2 linked regions of the Homo sapiens genome follow. The protein of the gene in region 1 binds, or shares a complex with, the protein of each later gene. Each region holds a gene or a part of one and is shown on either strand. Other genes may lie near its edges. A codon is read from its position in the direction of its gene.

Evidence for each region. The genes of interacting proteins can lie anywhere in the genome.
Region 2: the proteins of PDCD4 (region 1) and EIF4A1 are in contact, whole or in part, in a crystal structure (PDB 2ZU6), measured with the Homo sapiens proteins. Residues at the interface, in NP_055271.2 of Homo sapiens: Pro170, Gln173, Glu174, Glu177, His178, Glu183, Glu186, Met187, Asp190, Leu209, Glu210, Lys212, Glu249, Leu250, Leu252, Asp253, Thr254, Pro255, Arg256, Gly320, Gln321, Gln322, Ser323, Val324, Leu327, Glu348, Lys352, Glu355, Val356, Pro357; in NP_001407.1 of Homo sapiens: Gln75 (codon at 7,230), Thr109 (codon at 7,332), Arg110 (codon at 7,335), Glu111 (codon at 7,338), Ile135, Gly137, Val140, Thr158, Gly160, Arg161, Asp164, Glu186, Leu188, Ser189, Arg190, Gly191, Phe192, Gln195, Ala214, Thr215, Met216, Pro217, Glu240, Leu241, Thr242, Asn280, Thr281, Arg282, Arg283, Thr329.

Annotation. Positions count from the first base shown.
Region 1 is NC_000010.11:110,874,912-110,881,930, reverse strand, and holds part of PDCD4 (programmed cell death protein 4), read right to left. Parts: intron 5,966-7,019; 5' UTR 5,904-5,965; coding exon 5,861-5,903; intron 5,262-5,860; exon of another isoform or gene 5,188-5,261; coding exon of another isoform or gene 5,178-5,187; intron 699-5,177; coding exon 396-698; intron 1-395. UniProt on the Homo sapiens protein: Inhibits translation initiation and cap-dependent translation. May excert its function by hindering the interaction between EIF4A1 and EIF4G. Inhibits the helicase activity of EIF4A. Modulates the activation of JUN kinase.
Region 2 is NC_000017.11:7,567,907-7,575,843, forward strand, and holds the start of EIF4A1 (eukaryotic initiation factor 4A-I), read left to right. Parts: upstream 1-4,918; 5' UTR 4,919-4,935; coding exon 4,936-4,958; intron 4,959-6,353; coding exon 6,354-6,402; intron 6,403-6,639; coding exon 6,640-6,772; intron 6,773-6,806; exon of another isoform or gene 6,807-6,941; intron 6,942-7,212; coding exon 7,213-7,352; intron 7,353-7,937. Other genes in the region: SENP3 (sentrin-specific protease 3), read left to right, coding at 2,450-2,587, 2,775-2,858, 2,977-3,027, 3,467-3,577. UniProt on the Homo sapiens protein: ATP-dependent RNA helicase which is a subunit of the eIF4F complex involved in cap recognition and is required for mRNA binding to ribosome.

The DNA of each region.
Region 1 (7,019 bases):
TAGACGTTATCAATCAAATGTATATTTATTAGTAGTAGTAATGGACATAATTATATTAAATAAGTATGATGGATTTCTGACTCCTTTCAAACTTAGAGAATATACGTAAAACTCGTAACAGTGAAAAACATCAGTGTATATTTTGCTGGAAATAAATCGTTAACATTCTGCTCAAGAAAATTAAATCTACTCAAACAAGAAAAAACATCAACCTAAAGAAAAAGTGAGATGGTTCTCACATTATTACTAAGTAAAAATATATACAAACTGTAAAGCCTTACATTTTCACTTTTTGAATCTCTCTCATTCCTAGAACAAGGAAAGTGTAGTACAAGAACCAGACAATTTTTTTCCACTTGTTTATCTTCCATTTGTTGGACATGATATATACCAACCTTTCTTTGGTAGTCCCCTTCCTTTCCCAGATCTGGATCGCCTATCCAGCAACCTTCCCTTTGGACTGGTTGGCACAGTTAATCCACTTCTAAGGGCGTCACTCCCACTGTCGCTGACCGAATCGCCTCTGCCAGAGTCCCGGGATGAGTTTTTCCTTAGTCGCCTTTTTGCCTTGGCATTAATTCTAGCTTCGTTAATGGAGGATGCTGAAATCCAATTTCCATTTATTTCATTCTTTATTTCCTCAGTCCCAGCATTTTCTTCATCACCGGAAAAGAGAGAGTCACTTAAGTTATCAGGATCTTAAAGAGAAAAATGAAGAAAAAAATTCTAAGTATTTTAAGTATCTACTGTTTTATAGATATAGTGGTAAGTTAGATTAGGTTGAATCACATGACATTACCATTTTTGTAGGTAAATTACAGTCACATATTGGGAATTTCATCTACTTCAATCTAATAAACAACTAAATAAGATTACTTTTCACATTATCAAGGAAAGTAAACCAAGGCACTGAATTTTAACAAAGCATGTTTGTTTCTTACCAAAAACAAACCAAATTTGTTTGTTTTTACCAAAAGAAGCATGTTATTTCACGTTTAGATCATAAAATCTATGCTAACAGCAACACCAAATATAAAACCCTTAGACTTTTATGAGCTAATTGGAGATATTAAGAAAAGACAAAGCATCTTGAGAAGAGAGATAAACTAATATTTATAGAATGCCTACTATTAGGCACTGTGCTAGACACTCTATCATTTATTTATGCACAAGTTTGGCAGTTAATTATTATAACATTGAAGACAGATAAGGAAACTAAGGCTGAGAATGTTTAAATGATTTGCCAAACGTCCCATAACTAGGTATAAACACTTAAGAACTATTAGTAATCCAAAAGAGAATGAAAGGCATTTAGCAAATAATCGCATATGATTGTTGAGCTGAACTGCTGATGCTTTACTGCCTCAAGACAAAGTTTGCTTTCAAGAAAAGCCAACATCTCAAAGTCCTAATTCATCTCCCTAAACTTTTCTCCTATTACTTACCATCCTGTAAATCTTCCAGCCTATATAAAATTGATTCTTCTGAAAGAGATCAACATACTGGAGTTCCCAGTAGAATGTCGCCCTCACTGTTATTTTCAGTTATCAAAATCCTTTAGGATATAGCCCAAGTCTTACTCCCTGCATTAAAACTTCCCTTACAACTCTAGGTACAGGAACACTAATTGCTCACATACTATTCATTCAACACGTCATGGAAATCACTTTCTTTTTATATAGCAGTCTTTTTCTTCCAACTAAGTCATAAGCTTCAAAGGAGAAACCACAACTAGACTGTATGTCCTTCTTTGTATCCCCATCACCTAGCAGAGTGTCCTTCATACTCAAATTCCATGGAGATCAAGTGGAGGCACTTGGCTTTGCCCTGAAAGCTCTTTAAGTCAGAAAGGCTACTGAATTAGCTACCACTGGGCCACAGTTTTGTTCATTATTGTTAACGCAAATCAGAGCTGAATCACTCAAATCATTTTCTATATGCCTAAAGATAATTATAACATGTCAGGTCTATGTGCATGGGCTTTAATATGTTTTAAGACATGTTGAAACCAAAAATTTTCACCAACCTATAAAAAGCATACATGTGTTTAAATCTTTACAATTCTTGACATACTTAGGAAGGTAGGAATGTTTTGTTTTAAACAAAATCATCAATTAGAGCCAAATTATTTCACTAGTCTCATAAGTAGTCTCCCTGCCTCCAGTCTTCAAACTATACTGAATGAAGACTGATTTTCTCAAGCATGCCCTCACTGAAGATCCTTTAAAAGTAGTCCCATTATGTCACAAAAAATGTAAACTTTTTTTTTTTTTTTTTTGAGACAGCGTGTCGCTCTGTCACCCAGGCTGGAGTGCAGTGGTGCAATCTCAGCTCACTGCAAGCTCTGCCTCCCGGGTTCACGCCATTCTCCTGCCCCAGCTGGGACTACAGATGCCTGCCACTACGCCTGGCTAATTTTTTTGTGTTTTTAGTACAGATGGGGTCACCGTGTTAGCCAGGATGGTCTTGATCTCCTGACCTCGTGATCCACCTACGTCGGCCTCCCAAAGTGCTGGGATTACAGGCGTGAGCCACCGCACCCAGCCAAAATGTAAACTCTTTACCTTGTAACTTAAGGTCCTTTATGATCTTGCCCCTGCTTACCTCACCAGAATCACTGCTAACTACTCCCACACTCAAATTGTCAGAGCTTAAGTTAGATATCATAGGGAAGAGATGGGAGGGATTCATTTGGCAGAAGAATACTGAGTATATTACAAAAAGAGAAAGTATAAAGTAGGAAACCGCTAAGAAAATGCTTCAGTAATTCAGTCACAAGCTAACTGGTAAAGAGCAAGGGTAGTAACTGTGGGATAAATAATAATGTTACACTTTTAAAGAAAATAATGAAGGACTTTTAAGCAGAATGTATCTAGGATTAAAGAGAAGTCAAACAATGCCTTAAAAGTTTTCAAACTGGTAAGAAGCCGGTGTTAGGATGGTGTGTTTGGGACATCATCATAACCATCAGTAGTAATTATAGTCTTAGTGGAAGTAGTCGTAGTACTGTTTCTTTCATCATTACCATTACTATTGTCATCTATTAGATACCAGGTTCCACACTACCTGGTACCTATTAGATTCCACACTACCTGGTACCTATTAGCTAAGGCACTTTACATATGTGGTCTATAAGCTTCAAGAGCTCTAGAAAGAAACTGTTTATCCTCATTTTACAGAAGGAATGTGTTTCACAAGAAGTTACATATCTAGAAAGGATTATGGCTAGAATTCAAACCCACATTTTTAATCCCATATAACTACAGAAAATACAAAACTAGAATACAGCAGAGTATTGACAGCTAAAGAGACGAACAAGGGCGTGAATGTAAAGAGAGATAAACAAAAATGATTAAGTGGAAGGGGACAGAAAGATCAGGATCACATAAATTAGATGACATTTTCGTGTAAGAGTGGATGGTTGAGAAAAACATTAAACATCTACCTGTAACATAGTGCTTTCATCATTGTGCCATTAAGGTGAACCACAAAACTGGTCCAGAAGACACAGGAGTCAGAACTATAATAAAATGTCTTAAACTGTCCCTTGGAGTATTCAATTTAAATACATCTATTTCCCATAATCGAGTTTTCTTTTCTTCAACAATTTTAACATCCTTTCAAGTATGTTTGTGTCTCTGCAGCAGTAAACATTCTCTCAGTATAATTTATATATTTGACCTTATCATTTTTAACCCATGTTTGTATTAATTGCTTTATATTTTGTTACTCATACTCACCTAACTGTTGGAGTTCCATAACCCCTATTGAGCTGACTTTAAGAAAACCAAAATTAAAATGATAAGCTGAGTACAGAATGTGATTGACTTCAAAATTGTTTCCTACTGTGTACTAATTCCCTCTTTCTGAATTCTGATATCTCAATAGTAACCACTCCAATTGTATATGACCACAGCACCAGAAAATCACATTTTCAATTACTGGTGTCCAATGAGTGGCATAATTAGAATAACATTACCACACTTTCATGTATTACATACCTAGTATGTGCTTCACAGACTTAACACACATATACAATATCTCACTAAATCCTAATTATAAATCTATACAGAGGGTATTTATATCCCAATTTTATACATGAAAAAACTGAAGGTCAGAATAACCTACTTCCTCCAAGTAAAAGAGTAAGAGTGTGACTTGGACTATTTGCTATGTGAAGAATTTACTACAAAGAGGGTCTATCTTAGGCCTATTCAAATATTGAAGAACAAGTCTTTTATTTTAAAGCAGTGCTGGACACAAGCACCAAGAACAGGGTTAGAACTAGGTCTTATTGTAGTTAGGAAACAAAAAGTACACATTTTAAAGCTGTGTTTCTATTTCTAATAGAAATAGAATGCAAGCCATATAAGAAATTTTAAATTTTCCAGTAGCCACATTAAAAAGTAAAAACAGGTGAAATTAATTTAAATATATTTTATTTAATCTAATATAACCATATCATCTCAACATGCAAGCAATATAACAAATTATTGAGATAGTTGACCTTCATCTCAACTCAGAGTAGCCACATTTCAAGTACTCAACAAACACATGTGGCTAAGCACAGTGGTGCACACGCCTGTAATCCAGCTACTGAGGAGGCTGAAGAGGGAGGATCACTTGAGCCCAGGAGTAATAACCACATGTAGCTAGTGGTCACCATACTGGACAGTGCAGAAAAGAAGCAATTACCTATATGTAAAATATATTCTAAACTGTATTACCATCCCCATCTCAATTAAGTAGGTACATATTATCCATTTATAACCCTAAAGCATACTCATACAGCTATTGTATACAGCAGCACAGAAATGATCATTAATTACATAAATTTTTTTCAATTTTTTACCATACTTTAAAAAGATCTGTAAATAAACAATGGTAAAGAAGCTTCAAATTCAACATGTTTGTTCAGATCAAAGAAAACTATGTACATTGTAAACAATAGTGAGTTAAGTCACTGAGGAAAGAAAGATGTAGTATTTAGTTACGAAATACACTTAAAATGACAGAAAATAGCTTTCAATATTAATAAAATTATAAGACAAAGAATTATCCAAAGTATACCAATATGAACTGTTCTCACTATTCAGATATTACACAATTCTAATTAACTTTTTGGGAGATTATTTTTAAAACTATAAATACATTTTAAATTATCTTGAGTTACTCACATTTGGTCATCTATTCCACAAAACTGTTCATTTTTATGATAATAACATGCTATTGAAGCACCATGGAGAATTAGGGAAAATACCCTAGGTAATTTAGAATATAAAAATTATTTGTTAGGAAAGATACCAAAGATACCAGTAAGTTTATATTACAGAAATCACTAACTAGCCCATGTGAAAATAAGCAGGCTCACTATTCTTCTCTATTCTGTACTATATAACAGAGAATAGGAATATGTGGAATGTGAAAGGATAGGCAGAAAAATAGGACATGTAATGAATTTCCATGAAAATAAAAATCACAAACTTGACTTTAAAAATAATATAGCCTGTTTTCTTACAGCATGAATAAAAGAGTATTTAAAGATAGTTTTTCTATCATGTTTTTATAAAATATGGAATGGTCTGAAGCTTCCTCACAACATAGTCAAGCTTCAAGATATTTCAGCCTAGGCAACATAGTGAAATCCTATCTCTACAAAAAATAAAAAATTAGCCTGGTGTGGTGGCACACACCTGTTGTCCCAGCTGCTGAGGAGGCTGAGATAGGGGAGGATCTCTTAAGCCCAGGAAAGTCAAAACTGCAGTGAGCCATGATCACACCACTGCACTCCAGCCTGGGTGACAGAGCAAGATCCTGTCTCAAAACGAAGAAAAAAAGAAAAAAGGATATCCTTACTTACCTGCAGGGTTTACATTCAGTATCTGCTCATTTTCTACATCCATTTTCCCTTAATTTCGCTTGCACTGATTAAACAAATTACCTAATGGAAATCTTCCTTCAGAATCTGTTTTTTTAAAAGAAAAAAAGAAAGCTTCAAGATCTTTTAAACTGATGTAATTAAGCTGAATTAAACTTACTTAAGCACACTGTAAAAACAAACGACAACAACAAAAAACACACAATTCCATTAAATAAAACAGTTCACTTTACTTTCAAAGACAACTTACCCTAATTAACATTTGGTTCCAATCTTTTTGATAAATTTATCAAAGTCAAAAAAAAAAATCCCAGATTTCAGCATGTGCCAAAGCACCCCTTTAATTGGAATTAAAAGATATGTTTGTGATACATGTTTACGTCAAGTTAAAGAAATACACACATCCAAATCTTTTAGGAATACCAAGCCTCAAAATTAATCTGATATACATACATAGGAATATAAATACTGGATAGTTCCCTACCAATGAATTATGAGAACTACTCCAAAATAAAAACAACACAGTTTTAGTTAATAAAGAATATCACATGACTGTGTTATTTTTCACATTACGGCATATCTGAAAGGCAGATATATCTGCCACTCATTACCTAGGTCTCTATAATTACTAGAATAAGACTTTGGGAGAAACTTTTAAAATCAGCTTTTTTGATAATATTATTTATATGAGAAATCCTTTTTTGATAATATTATTTATATGAGAAATCCATTTTTTAAAAATCTGATCATTTCAGAAAGGAGTAAGTACAACGACATAAGCATTTCAGTATTTTAGGCCTCAGTTTCAAAATGGCTTAAAAATTATTAATACTGGAAGGTTTGATGAAATCAGTTACCTTTTAGACAATTAACTTAGTGATACAGATCCAATAATGTTATATGAAAGAAATATCAAAATAGTTTTCAAAAAATATATTACCAGAAAGTGCAACCAAATTAAGATTTCAGAATCTCTCTAGAAGTATTTTTTAAATAGTGGTTTAGAGTACTTAAGTGTATGTTTAAGTCACATAGGTTGGATATAAGTCCTTCTGGTCATTTACAATCAGGTTGCTAGCAGTGTGCTCTTCAGAGATATAAAATGCACAAATTAGTGAAAATGCCTAATAAATTAATTACA
Region 2 (7,937 bases), on another chromosome or scaffold:
GCAAGAATGGAAGCAGGAACAGAGCACAGTAGTCCAGGTGAGAAACTTGAACTGGAGTGCTAAAGGAAGAGAGAGAGAGTAGTTTTATGTAGGATAAATTTTACGAGTAAAACCAGTAGGACTGACAGGCTCTGTGATACTGAGAGATACATATTTGGTCTCCTGACCAGGCTCCTGGCATTCAACTTCTAAAATCCTTGGAATCTCCAGTGATGTGTGTTTTTGTGTGCTGATGAGTTGATTCATGGCTAGCCCCTCTAGGTGGCTTCATGATTAGAGGGTTGGAACTTTCAGCCTCACCCCCACCAACTTCCTGGGAGGGGAATGGGGCCAAAGGTTAAGGCAATCACTGAGGATCAGTGATTTAATCAGTCATGCCTAGTAGTGAAGCCTCTAAAAACCGGAAAGGGGCCGGGTGCGGCGGCTCACGCCTGTACTCCCGGCACTTTGGGAGGCTGAGGCAGATGGATCGCAAGGTCAAGAGATTGAGACCAGCCTGGCCGACCTGGCGAAACCCTGTCTCTACTAAAAATATGAAAATTAGCTGGGCGTGGTGGCGTGCGCCTGTAGTCCCCGGGAGGCTGAGGCAGGAGAATCGCTTGAACCCGGGAGGCAGAGGTTGCAGTGAGCCGAGATTGTGCCACTGCACTCCACCCTGGGTGACAGAGTGAAACTCTGTCTCAAAAAAGAAAAAAAAACCCGAGAGGAGGAGTTTGGAGACATTCTAGATAGCTGAAGGCATGGAGGCTCCCACAGGATGGTCTCCAGGCCTCTTCCCGGTACCTTTCCCTGTGCATCTTTTCATCTGTACTCTTTGTACTACCCTTTGTTAATAAACTGGTAAATGTGTTTCCATGAGTTCTGTGAGCTGCTCTAGCAAATTAATCAAATTCAAGGAGGGGGTCATGGGAACGCTGATCTAACCAGTTGGTGAGAAACACAGATAAAACAACCTGGGGCTTAGGACTGGCATCAGAATTGGGGGCAGCCTTGTGAGACTGAGCCCTAAACCTGTGACACATTATCTCCAGGTAGATAGTGTTGGAATTGAATTGGGGGATACCCAGCTGTGTCCACCGCAAAATTGCTTGCTTGGTTGTTGGTGGAGAGAAAGCCCCACAAACACTTCTTGGTGACCACAGGTTACAGAAGTATTTTGTGTTGTGAGAGTATAGTAGGAAAGAAGATTTGTTTTTTTGCCGGGCGCGGTGGCTCACGCCTGTAATCCCAGCCCTTTGGGAGGCTGAGGCGGGCGGATCACCAGGTCAGGAGATCAAGACCATCCTGGCTAACACAGTGAAACCCTGTCTCTACTAAAAATACAAAAAATTAGCCGGGCGAGGTGGCACGTGTCTGTAGTCCAAGCTACTTGGGAGGCTGAGGCAGGAGAATGGCATGAACCCAGGAGGTGGAGCTTGCAGTGAGGCAAGATCACGCCACTGCACTCCAGTCTGGGCAACAGAGCAAGACTCCGTCTCAAAAAAAAAAAAAAGATTTGTTTTTTCCTCCGCAGGTTGGATGTGGGAAATGAAGAAAAAGAAATGGAGGATGATGCCTAGGTTTTTGGCCTATGTAACGGGAAAAGTGGGAGAGGAACAGGTTGGGGGAGGAAAATGAAGAGTTCTTTTCTCTTCTGGTTTCCCTGCCCTCCCATTCAAAGGCCAGGAAATTTCTACAGCTAGGCAGGATGATTGGCTCCGGCATTCCTTAATTTCAGTCCTCAAAATCAAGAGCTTACACCCTCAGGGATCTTCTTGCAGTAGAGGGAAGGGTGGTGACGTACAGTGAAAAACATGTTGGCCTTCTTCATACTGAGTTTGAGTCCCACTTCTGCCATTTCTTTCTTTCATGACCTTGTGCAAGTCACGACTTTCCAAGCTGCAATTTCCTCATCTGTTAGGTTGAATGTTGAGAACTTCCCGGTAGGATTGTTATGAGCATTAACTGCGTGTTTACTTTGTGCTGTGTCTTGTTCTAAGTGTATTATGGATAGTCACTAGTTTAATCCTCATATCAAATGGATGAGGTGTAGGTACTACTATTTACACTCTCTGACAGATAAGGAAACTGAGGTATAGAAGGTTATTAAGTAGGTTGCCCACTGTCATAAGCCAGTAAATGGAGGAGCTGTATTTGAATTCTGGCAGGCTCCAGAATCCTGGGCCTGGGTTCTTAGCTGCTAAGTGCTTCTCCCTTTAAAGTGTGAAAAGCGCCTGCCCATCATGGGTTCTCCAGTGTTCGTTCTGATGTCTCCTCCATTGTCTGACCTTCCTCCCTTACCCCGAAGAACCGAAACATGCAGATCCTGAGCTTGCCCACAATCTAGGCCTTGGGTCTTCTGTTCTTTCACTTGGTTCCCTTACCTGTGTCTCTGTTCCTCTCTAGAACCTTCATGGCAAAAGGCAAGACTTCTGTTTGTTGTACCTGACCTGTGGCACTATCTCTTTAGGTGGACATCTTCAATAAGGAGCTACTGCTAATCCCCATCCACCTGGAGGTGCATTGGTCCCTCATCTCTGTTGATGTGAGGCGACGCACCATCACCTATTTTGACTCGCAGCGTACCCTAAACCGCCGCTGCCCTAAGGTTTGAGGGGGTAGGAGAGAGATGGGCAAAATGTGGGGCGGTGCAGTGGCAAGGCATTGCAGGAAGAAGGGTGGGCTTTGGGTCTTTGAGGGGCGACCTGGGCATGGTGTCTGCCAGCACTGTACCCACCATACTGTGTTCAATTGAGAAACTTAGGGCATCACTTTCTTTTCCCCCATCCACATAGCATATTGCCAAGTATCTACAGGCAGAGGCGGTAAAGAAAGACCGACTGGATTTCCACCAGGGCTGGAAAGGTTACTTCAAAATGGTGAGTTTCCTGAGGGAGGGGTATAGGGTGTTGGTGGGGACAGTGGTAGAAGGCAGAAATTGAAGTCCTACCCCTGGGAGTCTCCATGTGAAGGGCCTGCTTTCTTTCTCTTCTCTAGAATGTGGCCAGGCAGAATAATGACAGTGACTGTGGTGCTTTTGTGTTGCAGGTAAGCAGATGATGGGGCCACCTCCCCTAGCTCTGAAGTCAGTTGGGTTAAAGGGTCGGGAGGCTGTTATGCATCCCCTCATTTGGCTCATAGTCAGTTGTGGAGCAGGAAGTAATCTGTTTTAGAACACCAAAACACTGGCTTCACTGGTTCTCTTCTGGACTTCTCCATCCCACATTGGGACTGGGTCTCTAGTCTTGGGCCTCTGGCCTTCATAGAGCTCCCTGCTAACCTCCAACTCAGTGTATTTTCTCCATCTAAAACATTCTATCAAGTAAGAACACTAGCTTTAGAGTCAGGCTGTTTTTGAACCCCAGGCTGTGGGACCCTGGCTCCCTTTGGGGATGTTCTCTGAAGGATGGAGACACATCTCATATGAAATGTGTAGCACAGGTCCTGACACGGGGGGTTTCTCATGGCTTGCTTTGTTAACACCCAGTACTGCAAGCATCTGGCCCTGTCTCAGCCATTCAGCTTCACCCAGCAGGACATGCCCAAACTTCGTCGGCAGATCTACAAGGAGCTGTGTCACTGCAAACTCACTGTGTGAGCCTCGTACCCCAGACCCCAAGCCCATAAATGGGAAGGGAGACATGGGAGTCCCTTCCCAAGAAACTCCAGTTCCTTTCCTCTCTTGCCTCTTCCCACTCACTTCCCTTTGGTTTTTCATATTTAAATGTTTCAATTTCTGTATTTTTTTTTCTTTGAGAGAATACTTGTTGATTTCTGATGTGCAGGGGGTGGCTACAGAAAAGCCCCTTTCTTCCTCTGTTTGCAGGGGAGTGTGGCCCTGTGGCCTGGGTGGAGCAGTCATCCTCCCCCTTCCCCGTGCAGGGAGCAGGAAATCAGTGCTGGGGGTGGTGGGCGGACAATAGGATCACTGCCTGCCAGATCTTCAAACTTTTATATATATATATATATATATATATATATATATATATATATATATATATATATATATATATATATATATATAAAAATATATAAATGCCACGGTCCTGCTCTGGTCAATAAAGGATCCTTTGTTGATACGTAAGTGGTGGTCTTCCTTAAGGGGCTTCAAATTAGTGGATATGCTTAGCTCAGACCTTCCAGCCAGTCTCTTGAGACTAAAGGGTTCAGCTTTCCATCCCTGGCTCAGGCACTGCCAACACCTTGTCTTCACCCAAACAAATCCCCGAGATGGGAGCAGAGAGCAGGAAGGAGGGAAAGTAGATAAGCCTCAAGAATAAGGGCATCCGAGAGGGAAGCTGGGGAACTGGACACAAGGGACTGGGGAGGGGACCAACCAGGATTCATGATAGTACCCCAAAGCCCTTTACAGTTTTCTTCCATCCCTCCACCATCCAGCCAGGGGAATCCTCCCATCCCTACGATATCGCTGTTGATTCCTTCATCCCTGGCACACGTCCAGGCAGTGTCGAATCCATCTCTGCTACAGGGGAAAACAAATAACATTTGAGTCCAGTGGAGACCGGGAGCAGAAGTAAAGGGAAGTGATAACCCCCAGAGCCCGGAAGCCTCTGGAGGCTGAGACCTCGCCCCCCTTGCGTGATAGGGCCTACGGAGCCACATGACCAAGGCACTGTCGCCTCCGCACGTGTGAGAGTGCAGGGCCCCAAGATGGCTGCCAGGCCTCGAGGCCTGACTCTTCTATGTCACTTCCGTACCGGCGAGAAAGGCGGGCCCTCCAGCCAATGAGGCTGCGGGGCGGGCCTTCACCTTGATAGGCACTCGAGTTATCCAATGGTGCCTGCGGGCCGGAGCGACTAGGAACTAACGTCATGCCGAGTTGCTGAGCGCCGGCAGGCGGGGCCGGGGCGGCCAAACCAATGCGATGGCCGGGGCGGAGTCGGGCGCTCTATAAGTTGTCGATAGGCGGGCACTCCGCCCTAGTTTCTAAGGATCATGTCTGCGAGCCAGGATTCCCGGTAAGAAAGGCATTTGCAAGAGATTGTGGCTGCTTATTTTGCCGCCCCCTTCCGACGGGCCCGCCGGGGGTAGCTGAGAGGCCCACCAGGGTTGCGGGAGAAACCGAACCGGGTGGGGGGAGGGTCCGACTTGGAGGGGCGAGGGGGAAGACCCACGGCCGACGCGGCCACCAGGTCGAGGCGGAGGGTAGGGACAGCCCGGCTAGGGTCAGGCGTGCGAGGTCTGTTACGAGGCCTCGACCCGAGGCGGTGCCATGCGCGAAGCCCCGGCGCTGAGTGGCGAGACGGGGTCGCGACCTGGCGTGGGAAAGAAAGGTGGAGGCGGCCGCCACTATGTGTGGCCCAGAGCCGGCAGGTCCGGTTGCCTCCCTGTGCCGGGGGAGGGACGGCGCGCGGGGTTCCGGAGCATTCTGACGGTACCACTCGCGAGAGGCGGGGGTGCCTGGTCCTTAGATCCAGTCACTTCGTCGCGGCTAAAACACGGGTCGGGGAGAAGAAACCGGCCGTTCAGTGTGCTGGTTTTCTTGACGGCCAGGACTGAGCCTAACCCCGAGGAGCGGCCGCGTGAGGCACCAGGAGCCCACCCGGCGCCGGGCGGGCGGGTCCATTTTGCCGCACAAGCCGGGCTATTGGCAAACTGCGGATGGGCAGGTCCACCTTCCTTCGGGGGTGAGCGGCCTGAGGTATGGGAGGGCGACGCTACTTCGCGACGGGGGCGGGCGGGATGTGGATTGTTCATGGAGGGGTGGGAGACGCCGCCGGGTGGTCGAGGGAGCGAGCACATGGTGGCCTGAGGCGTTCCCCTCCCCCAGTCTGCTTCGCTTCTAAGTGTTGTGCAATCTCCCCCTTTGCTAGCTCGGCTTGGGCTCATTGTGCGCGAGGCCGCCACCGCCCGCGGCCTCCCACATCCGGGCAACGCGAGGGGGGGGCTTCGGCTGGAGGGAGTGGGGGAGGGCGCGGGCGGGATGACGTGGGGGGAAGGGGATGTCCTACCCTCCGATCTGGGAGGTGAAGGGCGGGACTTCCAGCGCGCTGGTGCTGCGGTGGGAGGTGCACGCGCTTGGGCTTTAAGCGGCTGGGTCGGGCCCACGTGGACCCGGCGGCAAGCACCACCTCTGGGCACCGTGAGCGCGGCGGCACGCCTGCCGGCCTGTCTTCAGAAAGGGTCACCCCCTTATGTCGGGGGTGGCCTGGCCTGAGCCGCTGCCTGCATGGGGCAAATGCCTCAGTTTTATAGAAACTCCTCCTTTGGGTATTTTTTGGGAGCTGGTGGGAGTTGGATCTGGGACAGCAGATTGATGGCATCATGCAGGCCACTCCTGACAGAGCCCGGCTGTCAGGATTTCTGAGTGCTTCGGTCGGGCAGGGGACAAAACTTATGCTTTAAACCAACAGATCCAGAGACAATGGCCCCGATGGGATGGAGCCCGAAGGCGTCATCGAGGTGAGACTGGAGAAATGGAATTCTGTCCTCCCCCATTACAACTTTCAGCCGTATAGAGTTAGAGTGGCCTCTTGATTGATTTCCCAGATCATCTAGAAGCAGCTGGTTTCCCTAAAGGGAGGAGGGTTGTAAGCTCTGAGGCTTTTGTTAGTAGGCACCAGATTCTGTTTGCTCGGAGACTACAGCTCAGCTCCACCTTTTCCATGACTCAAGCTTTAATTTCTTTGCATCCCCTAGAGTAACTGGAATGAGATTGTTGACAGCTTTGATGACATGAACCTCTCGGAGTCCCTTCTCCGTGGCATCTACGCGTATGGTTTTGAGAAGCCCTCTGCCATCCAGCAGCGAGCCATTCTACCTTGTATCAAGGGTGAGACCTCTCAGTCCCAGAAGACATTGTGGACTGTCCCTGACCTGGGTAGAGTGGCATCTGGTTGGTGATGCCCATCTCATATCAGCCAGGGACAAAGCAACTCCTTGTTCATCCCAGCTTGGCTTTTGATCCGTGCCCATGCCTGGTTCATGCCTTGGACACATAGGTTTCCTTTAAAGAGGTGGTATTGTAGCCAGCTTATATTTGCATCTACAGCCATGTTTCTAGTCCAGCTTGGTGTGCAATACTAGATGAGTTAATAACTGGTCCTTGTTTCTGATCTGGTTCCCATTGTGTAACTGTGTTGATTGGGAAGGTAGTTTGTGAGCCATGAAATGCTTGGTTCATTGGTTGCTTATTGACCTCATTAACCTAGGACTTGAATATCCCAAAGGGTATGCTCTTTACCACATTCAACTCCTAATTTATTTGTTTAGGTTATGATGTGATTGCTCAAGCCCAATCTGGGACTGGGAAAACGGCCACATTTGCCATATCGATTCTGCAGCAGATTGAATTAGATCTAAAAGCCACCCAGGCCTTGGTCCTAGCACCCACTCGAGAATTGGCTCAGCAGGTAAGAGTGGCTTCTATTCCCTCCTTCAGGGCTGATTTAGGGATGATGAGTATAATCCAAGGACCAGAGAAGTCTTCTCTGATCACCACCTTGGGAGGAAGACATGGGTGCCCTAACACTCTCGAGACCTGCTGGGTTAATTAAAAGCTATTTCTTACCCAAACGTAACCATTGCTTCCTCCACCCATTTCCTGAGTCAAATGGGAAAGCTGTTGGGTGAAGCCTGGCTGGCTGGGCAAGTTTGACTGTGTTCTGAATAAGCACCTTCACTATGGGCTAAGAGATCCCTTGGTGTGGGGGTGATCTTACAGTAGTCAGAGCAGATGGACAGTCCTTTTCACCCTTGCTTAATAGCCAGAGCTGTTTCATGCCTGGGGCACACACAATTCTAATGCTGGACTTTTTCCTGGGTCATGCTGCAACACTGATGTCAGAGCATGTTTTTAAATGTTCTGTGGCAGGGGCAGTGATTATTCTGGGTGTGGATAATGTAAGAAGTTACAGCAGAGCTCCATTCTAAGGCACTTGGCTCTCAGTTTTCTCAGAGTGAACATGCCTCGTAGCTTGGGTCCTATGGCAGGAGTG